Regions from separate parts of the Homo sapiens genome. Here all the other regions are linked to region 3. The links come from fine-mapping of genetic effects on gene expression. A gene starts in region 3. Each other region holds a variant in brackets. All regions are shown on one strand. Distances are from middle to middle. Region 1 overlaps NUP210 (nucleoporin 210). Region 2 overlaps IQSEC1 (IQ motif and Sec7 domain ArfGEF 1). Region 3 holds the start of HDAC11 (histone deacetylase 11).

Region 1 (2,754 bases), 94 kb before region 3:
GGCAGGAGCGCCTGTCTTCAGTTTTTTTGTCCTCCTGAGAGAAAGCGTTCTGCCACACAGGAATGACCAACCAGGTGACTGCTCTCAGTTGAGCAGGACTTTAAACAATGCAGCACCTCCCATCAACTGGAGACACCACTCAAGTTGCTCTTATGCTGAAGTGTGTATCTGCCTGCCTCTTAAGTGACACCCTGTATCACAGGTGGAACCAACCTACCAACCTGGCAAACTCACCTGACTGAGGCCCTCGGATGGACTGGACCTGAGAGCTCTTATGCCCATGACCCTTCAGGTCCTATGCTCTGGATGTTAAACATACACAGCTTTGAACAAAATGATAATGATCCTTAGGAGGACTGGCGCTCCATTGAGAACCGTCACTATCTAAACACAAGTACACAGTACAACTACACTCCTATTGATTCATTTTGTCCTCACAGCCCAGGCAGAAAGGCCTCAAAGCCTCCAATGAGAAACAGCCCTGGAGAAGGGCAGTGGCTTGTCCAAGTTTGTTCAGTTGTCAGTTGCAGACCGGGGCAAAGCCCAGCTAAACACAAAGCCCACAGCTCTGGACTTGCTGCCACTGAAAGGGCATATACCCCAAAGAATTTGAAAGCAGGGACTCAGATATTTGCTCACTATGTTCACAGCAGCATTACTCACAATGGCCAAAAAGTGGAAGCAACCCAAGTGTCTGCTGATGGATGAATGGGTAGATGAATGGGTAAACAGAATGTGGTCTATCCATCCACACAATGGAGCACTATTCAGCCTTAAAAGGGAAGGGAATTCCAACCCTTGCTACAACATGGATGAAACTTGAAGACATCAGGCTAGGAAAAAAGTGATATAAGCCAGTTACAAAAAAATAAATACTATATGATTCCACGTACATGAGGTAACCAGAGTAGTCACATTCACAGAGACAGGAAATAGAGTGATGAGTGCCAAGGGCTGGGAGAGGGTGAAGGGGAGTTAGTGTTTAACAATGCAGAGCTTCAGTTTGGGAAGATGAACGAGTTCTGTGGATGGATGATGGTGATGGCTGCAGAAGAGTGTGAATGTACTTGATGCTACCTGATGGAGCACTTAAAAATGGTTAAGATGGTAAATTTTGTTACATGTATGTAACCACAATAAAAAAAGGAGGAAGGAAGCATCTGTCATGATGGCAGAGCCAATGACACACCTGTAATTTTCCCTTGCCTGATCTTCTGCACCTTGTAGTGAATGGAGGTTCCCACCATCAGGTAGACGTCATAGGCCGGGTTCAGAAGGATGTTTTCCAAAATCAGCAGCCTGACTTCTGCAGGGCGTACATTCTTGGCATAAAGAAAAGGCAGACAAAGTGAGGTGCGGACAGGGAATGGGGAAGTGGTGGTGTGAGCAAGAGAAAGAGATGTTTTAAACATGGGAATAGGGAAGTTAAGAGGAAAGAAACAAGATATCATTCCCAAATCCTCACTTTCAGAACCCAGAGGTCCCAGGGGAGCTCCATAAGTATAGCAGGCACCCAGAAAAAGGGCATTACCCAGACTGAGCCCTCACACTGACTGCCCATTGTGCATGGTTTATCTCTA[T/C]GTGAAACCATGATTAAACTGGAGTAAAAGAGGAGAGCCAGGGTGAACTCTAGGGATGCTATGGCCACCGGGAGCTCAAGTTCTCTCCACACAAAAGCCCAAGGTCCAGGGAACTTGAGAAGCCCCAGGCCAACATAAAAAGCAGGAGAGGCATATGCTGTGATGAGCCTTGGCTGCTATTCCTTGACCCCTTCCCCTGCCCGCCTTTCACCCCCGACCTGTGACCTCCTGCCTCCTCAGGAAAACCCGTGGGCAACTTCGCAATGGGAGAAAGATCACTAGGTGCCCTGTCTAGTGCACCCTTAGGTACTGGATTCTCCAGAGGCCTGCACCTTTCATTGTCTTTGGCCTGTTTGATGGCAGTGTACATTGTAGAAAAGCGACAACACAGCAAATGATTCTTGTCCACAGAAACACAAAAACATTTCCTCAGGTGAAGGCGCAGCTGACTGCCCTCCTGTGGGTGTGGGCATTCTACATTTTTCTGAGTTCAGTTCAGCATGCCTGGTGTCCTGTGGCAACTCTTTGGATTCTCCTTTAAGCCTGCTGTCACAACTGACAGCTTTCCTCACTTAACAACTAGTTAATATCTTCAGTGTGTCCAAAACAGACAAGTGTATTGGGCACCACCATGGGCAGGGCTCTGTGGCGGCTGCTTTCCAGCACGCAGGCAGGGAGGGCCACTGAATGTCTATGGGCAGGACAGCAAGTCTGCCTTTCCAGCTTAGCAGTGTGGCTGTACCCCATCCCAGCCTGGGCCCTACACAGGAGCAAACTGTCTCTAAGTACTACCTGCAGAGTCCTACGGGATTAGCCCCTATAACAGGGCATGTCCCCATGTTTCCATAACTTTCCAGGACTCCCAGATGCAGCAAACCCACTACAGAGAGTGAATCAGAAGAGGATTTCTCCGTCTGCCACTTTACAAAATTAAATGGCAGGCCAAGTACCACAGTGTTCCTGCCTGTGCTCCAGACACTAGGCAAACAAAAATATCTCAGGGTTGCAGCTCAAAACGAGGCACTGGTTGGGTGGACATTAGTCCACAGGGACAGAGAAGGAACCAGGACGTTGGATAGACCCACTCCTCACTCTCCTTTCCTCTGGCATACCCCCACTACCCTAAGAATGGGATGCTGGTGAGGCCAGGAAGACATGGGATCGGCTGGGGCAG
Region 2 (2,754 bases), 410 kb before region 3:
AGCAACGCCTCCTAAGCCCCCACTGGTGGTGACAAAACTGGTCTGGTCCACAGGCATTGGGTGGGGGGCTCCCAGCCACTGTGGGACAAGTACCCTCAGCACCCAGGACAAGCAGGCTGGGGGCAGCCATGCCACAGTGGCAGTGACCAACACATTCCAGGTAGTGCATGCAGTGGGGAAGGGGTGGGGAGGGACAGAGCCTTGCGGCCAAGAGATCTGGAACCTGCTCAGGGTAAGGCGTCAGGTCCCCCAACACCTGGGCCCCCTGACCACCCTCCTTCCCTTCCTCATCCCATCTCTGTGCACTGGGTGCCCACTGGCCCCACCCACAAGGGCACACAGATCTGGCTGGGGAGGAGCAGGGTCTGGAGTCAGGCAGACTCACTGGCTGTGACCCTGAGCAAGGCACTTCCCTGGAAAACAGGATGGCACACAACCACCCTGCCAGAGTTGTGGGATTCAACAAGATAAGGCACTTTTGTTGTTATTCTTAAAGACCAAGTGAGTCAGTGCAAGGAGGCAGGCCAGGGCCCTGAGGAGATGGTGCCAGGTCCTTTAGGGGCACAGGGGGCCTTGGGGGGCTTCAACAAAGGGCCTCCAGGGAGGGACAAGGATGGCGTGACACTTGTTGAGCTTGGGGCCCAGCCTGCTTGCTGGCCCGCAGGCAAACCCTGGAAGGGGAGTATCAGCCCCACCACATAGAGCAGGAGGCTTAGGCCCAGTGCCTGTGCTTGGGGCACTTGGGAAAAGATGCTGACCATGGGCTGACCAAGGCCCAGCAGGGTCCTGCCCCGGGGCTGGGGCCAATCCAGGCCTTACGCTTCCTCTGAGGCCCAGGGAGGATGTGGATGTCGGACCTGTCCTTCACGGATCCTTTGGTGGAAGATGGTGGCAGGTGGGTCAGAGGTAGGTGCTTGCCTAAGCAGACGCTACTTGTTGCCCTGCCTGTCCAGCAACTACCAGAAAAGTCTGTTCCTCTCAGTCTCTAAAATTCACCCCAGACAGGGTCTCTAAGTCCCAACATCATGCCAGGCCATGCCAGCTTTGGGTATACAACGGGGAGCAGGCCTG[G/C]GCCCTGGCCTTGCAAAGGGGCAGAGGCAGTGGCCAGGCCTCTGAATTTTCAGGCCCCAGGCTCATGACACCCCCTCATGGTTGGGAGGCCCCAATGCAGTTCCCCAACCTCTTTAACCCCCAGTCTTTTCTTCATATCTTTAGCTTCCAGCATGACGATGTGACTCTTTACTCCAGGGCCTCCATGAACAGCCCCAGCCCCTTTACCTCTCTTCTTGGTCCACTCTGCTCCAGCAACACCATCCTCCCTCTGTGGCCCAATCCTGTCAAGCATGCCCTCACCAGGGCCTCTGCACTTGCTGTCCCCTGCACCCGGGGCCCCCACTCTTCTCCTGGATAGTTCCTCCTAATCATTTAGATTTCTGTTCAAAGGTCACCTCCTCCAGGAAGCCCTCCTCACTTCCTGAGTGGCCACACAGTTCACTCAATCCATTCCCATTGGGCTCTCTATCTTCTTCATTTCTCTGTGTCCTTCTCCCCTGCAGTATCCCCTGAGAGCAGCACCCTCTCAGTGGTTCCCAGCACTGAGCTGGACATACAGCAGGTGCACCATGAACACTAGCTGAAGGCAGGGAAGTGAAGGCCCAGGCCTGGTTATGCGGCCTTGGCTGCATATCCCAGTCTTTCTGAGTTATAACCAGGACCTGCCCAGTGGCTTCCTGGGGCTGTAAAGGGTGGATAGATGCTACAGCATTCTTGGAAAATAGCCCAGTGCTGTGTGGGTCATTCATAATAACCATTTTTAATAGTGATCACTGCATGGCAAGAAAGGCTACCGGTCATCACACGTGCTTGAGTGAAGACTGGGCCTCCGGTTCCCTCCCTGCATCTCTCTCGGTGGGCTGGGGCTGCTCTTCCCTGGCATCCAGCCCAGGCCCACTGTCCAGCAGATGCTGATAACTGTGCCTGCAGAACTGACCCAGCCAAGGTGATAATGGTGAAGGCTCAATGCACAAGTTTCTTGGAGGTGTGTGTGTGTGTGGAATGTTCCAGGCCCAGTCCCACCAGTGTCCCTTCTTCTGTCTAGGGGAGACCCACCAGGGCTTCGCTTCCTTCATGAAGGCCCCACTGCAAGCAGCAGGTCAGGGCATCCCACCAGAGGGAGACCACTGCCTCCTGCGGGGGCCGGCAGGTCATCATGTCCCCCAAACAGAAGGAAGAGAGGGGTCGGGACAGTTCCAGGCAGTGAATGAATGATTGAACAGGCATGGGTAGGCGAGTGCTCCACTGGCCTGGCCAAGCAGCCCACATCTCACACACCACAAACTCCTCACAGCCTCACTTCCTGTGTTCAAGTGACAGGATGTGACATGCCCATGAGGACAGAGGGGCCCCTTGCAGAGATGATGAAAAGGATGCTGTAGTTACAGAATTGAGGGCCATCCTTCATTCAGACACCATTCATGAAGCTGCCAGTACAGCAATGACCTCAGGTGTTAGCAAGTTTGATTCAGGGTCTGATTCTTGGAAGCCTCCTGATGTTCCCCCATTGGGTTAAGAAATCTTCTCCTGCTTTTGTTGTCATCCTTTATCCCATCCAGTGTGCCACCTTCACGATGGACTGAGCCCTGACCGGGACAGAGTCTCGATTCCATAAAGCTCCCTTGGGTGCACACCAGGGGCCCAGAGAGTGGAAGTGGCGAAAATGGAGGCTAGGGAGTGAGGACAGTGGGGTGGGGGTGG
Region 3 (2,754 bases):
TCACCCGCCTCGGCCTCCCAAAGTGCTGGGATTACAGGCGTGAGCCACCGCACCCGGCCCAGTACTTCATTTTCAGATGCAGACATGAAGGACCAGAAGGCTGAAGCAACCTGCCCAAAGCCACTATGCTGGCGGGTGGCCGAGTTTGGGTTTAATCCAGGCCCGAACCTCAGTTCCCTCAAGATAAAGTTGGGGTGATTATGGCACCTTTCTCAGGATTAGGTTGTGAGGCTCAGATGCCATCATGCAATCATGGCAGGCACACGGGGGCCCCTCTTCAAACGTCTGTGCGCTTCCCTTGTGCCCCGCCCTGGCACACAGCCGCCCCCGCGGAGCCCAGGGATCCCAGCCCGGCAGTCCTCCGTCAGCTGCTTCTGTTTGGATGGCGGGGACGGCTGGGCCGACAGAGAGGCCCATTGTCTCCGTCCTCTGGGGCTCTATTGTTGGGGCCTCCTCCTGGGTTGCAGCCCCACGGACAACCCCAGCTGTCGCTTGGGCCTGGCTCAGCTTACCCCGGCGGTGAGGGTGCGGGTCGGGGACGGAGACGCGTGCACCCTGAAGACAGTAACTAGGCCTGCTCTACAGAGGGAAACGCAGGCTCTGAGAGCCTACATGTCTTCGCCGGGAGTGCTTGTCCCGGAGCTGCTCGCAGACTGGGCCGGGGGTGGGCTCGGGTCGGAGAGGTCACGGGGCTCCTTAGGTCACAGGCGGCAGGGCCAGAGAAACTCCCCCGCCCCTACGTTTAACTCGCGGAAACAAGGGCCCAGAGAGCCCAGACGCCAGCCCAAGGTCACACAGCGAAGCCCCGGCACAGCCCGCCGGGAACCTGTCGTTTCTAACCCCCAGCCTCTCGCCGTTTCTACCCAGCTTGGGAAGCGCAGGAACAGGACATACGGTGGTCGCGCCCCTTCCGCGAGGCCGGGGTGAAACCCGCTTGGCCCTCCCGCCAGGGGGCGGAGCTTCCGAACCAGGCGGGATTCCACCGGGTATTTGCCTGCGGAGGCGGGACTTCGGGCTTGATGGGCGTTGGGGGTGGCCTTCCTGCGGGCAGGCTCTCTGTGTCGCAACACTGGCGGGGCGGGCCAAATCGGCCAGAGCTCTGCCCCCAGAGGACGCGGCTAAGCCCGGGGGCGTGTCCTGGGCTGGCCCCACCCGCGCCCCGCCCCGCCCCGCCCGGTCGCGGAGCTGCGGCCAGCTTTGGGAGGGCCGGCCCCGGGATGTGAGTGCCGCGGGGCGAGGGCGGGGGTGGGCTCCCAGGGGTCCCGGTGGGCGGGCGCGCTAGGGCGAGGGCGGGGACGGCCGGGCGGGCGCGCCAGGTAAGGGCCCAGATTTGCTGGTGAGGGGTGAGGGACGCTCGGGACGGGTGTTTCCAGGCCCTCCCGGCGCGCCAGGCCAGCCCCGCGCCCCTGCTCGGTGGCCCGAGGGACGCGCGCCGGCCGCGGGCCTGGGCCCGGACCCGGAGCGGTCGGGCGATGTGCGCGGGTCTGACGTCTGCGCTGCCCAGCCCCCTGGCTACGCGGACGCCCCCACGGAGGCAGCCACTGGGGCGGATTTCTGTCTCTGGGTGACGACTGCCAGGGTGTGATGGGAAGGGTTAGCAGCGCAGCGGGGTCAGGGGATCCCCGCCCCCCGCCCTGGCTCAGGTTGGGTCCCGACTTGGGTTTCTGAGTGCTTACTGTGCTCAGCTCCTCAGTTGCATTCTCTGAGTCCTCACAACAGCCACACATTTTGCAGCCGAAGCCTTGTGCCACACAGCTGTGGGGGCATTTATTACGGTGCAGAGGTGATGCGCGGAGGCCTTGCAGCCAGACACACCTGAGTGCACGCCTGCTTCTCCACAGACCTGCACTGTGACCTTGGGCACACCTGGTCTGCTCTCTGAGCCTCTGGTGCGATTGTGGTGCCTACCCCCAGGGCTGCTGTGAGGACTGGATTGGAATTGGGTTCCGGGAAAGGCAGCCAGTTTAAGCAGCTGTTGTTGAGGGGCCCTTGTCTGCGGCTGAGGGGCTAGTGGTGCTGGGCAATGGCTGGTGGGTCAGTCCAGGCGGGCTCGGGAGGGAGCTGCTTTCTGCCGAGGCTGCCCCAGCTGTGCGTCTGTCTTTTTCCACACGGTAGGCTACACACAACCCAGCTGTACCAGCATGTGCCAGAGACACGCTGGCCAATCGTGTACTCGCCGCGCTACAACATCACCTTCATGGGCCTGGAGAAGCTGCATCCCTTTGATGCCGGAAAATGGGGCAAAGTGATCAATTTCCTAAAAGGTATGGAAGGTCCCCCTTGGACTCTCATCTGCTTCCTCCAACCCACCTGTCCTCTCCGTCCTCATCCCCAACATAAGCCTCAGGCTCTCTCCCATCTTCAGTTTCAGCCCTCGGATGGCCTTCCACCCATGCTTCCGCCCAAAATGATTTTTCCAACACAGACTCCTAATCACGATATGATGTCCCTGACTCAGACTCTCCCTGGCTCCCCATCCTGTGGGCCTAAGTCCTGCCTCTGCCCAAGAGGCCTAGTGGAAAGGTAGCTGATTACTGATGGGCACAGGGAAGGTGAAGCTTGGAGGAGTCCATTTCCTAAGGTTCAGAGAGTCAGGAGGTAGAGCACCTCCACCGCACCTCTCTTGATTACAGATGGGGGAAATTGTGTCCTAGAATGATTAGGAAACATGTGCACCCAATTCCAGTCCAGTCCTCACAGCAGCCCTCGGGGTAGGCACCACAATCGCAGCAGAGGCTCAGGAGCTCACTGTAA

The links. PIP is the estimated chance that this variant, and not a neighbour inherited with it, causes the effect.
Region 1: its variant is fine-mapped to the expression of HDAC11 in whole blood (INTERVAL, PIP 0.96).
Region 2: its variant is fine-mapped to the expression of HDAC11 in cerebellum (GTEx, PIP 0.95).

What each region holds. Positions count from the first base shown.
Region 1 is chr3:13,385,086-13,387,839 of GRCh38, forward strand. It overlaps NUP210 (nucleoporin 210), which reads right to left. Exons shown (of 40, transcript NM_024923.4): 6 at 1,190-1,322. Among named protein-coding and RNA genes, the nearest start is that of NUP210, 34 kb to the right of the region's middle. The variant T/C (reference allele first, on the strand shown) is at 1,581.
Region 2 is chr3:13,067,353-13,070,106 of GRCh38, forward strand. The region is part of intron 1 of IQSEC1 (IQ motif and Sec7 domain ArfGEF 1); the gene reads right to left. Among named protein-coding and RNA genes, the nearest start is that of IQSEC1, 4.7 kb to the right of the region's middle. RefSeq lists enhancers at 2,390-2,469, 2,480-2,649. The variant G/C (reference allele first, on the strand shown) is at 1,072.
Region 3 is chr3:13,479,131-13,481,884 of GRCh38, forward strand. It overlaps HDAC11 (histone deacetylase 11), which reads left to right and starts at 1,176. Exons shown (of 10, transcript NM_024827.4): 1 at 1,176-1,219; 2 at 2,116-2,264. The coding sequence starts at 1,218. HDAC11-AS1 (HDAC11 antisense RNA 1) reads right to left here and starts at 923. Exons shown (of 2, transcript NR_046690.1): 1 at 513-923. RefSeq lists enhancers at 532-591, 1,241-1,897 and a silencer at 1,052-1,541.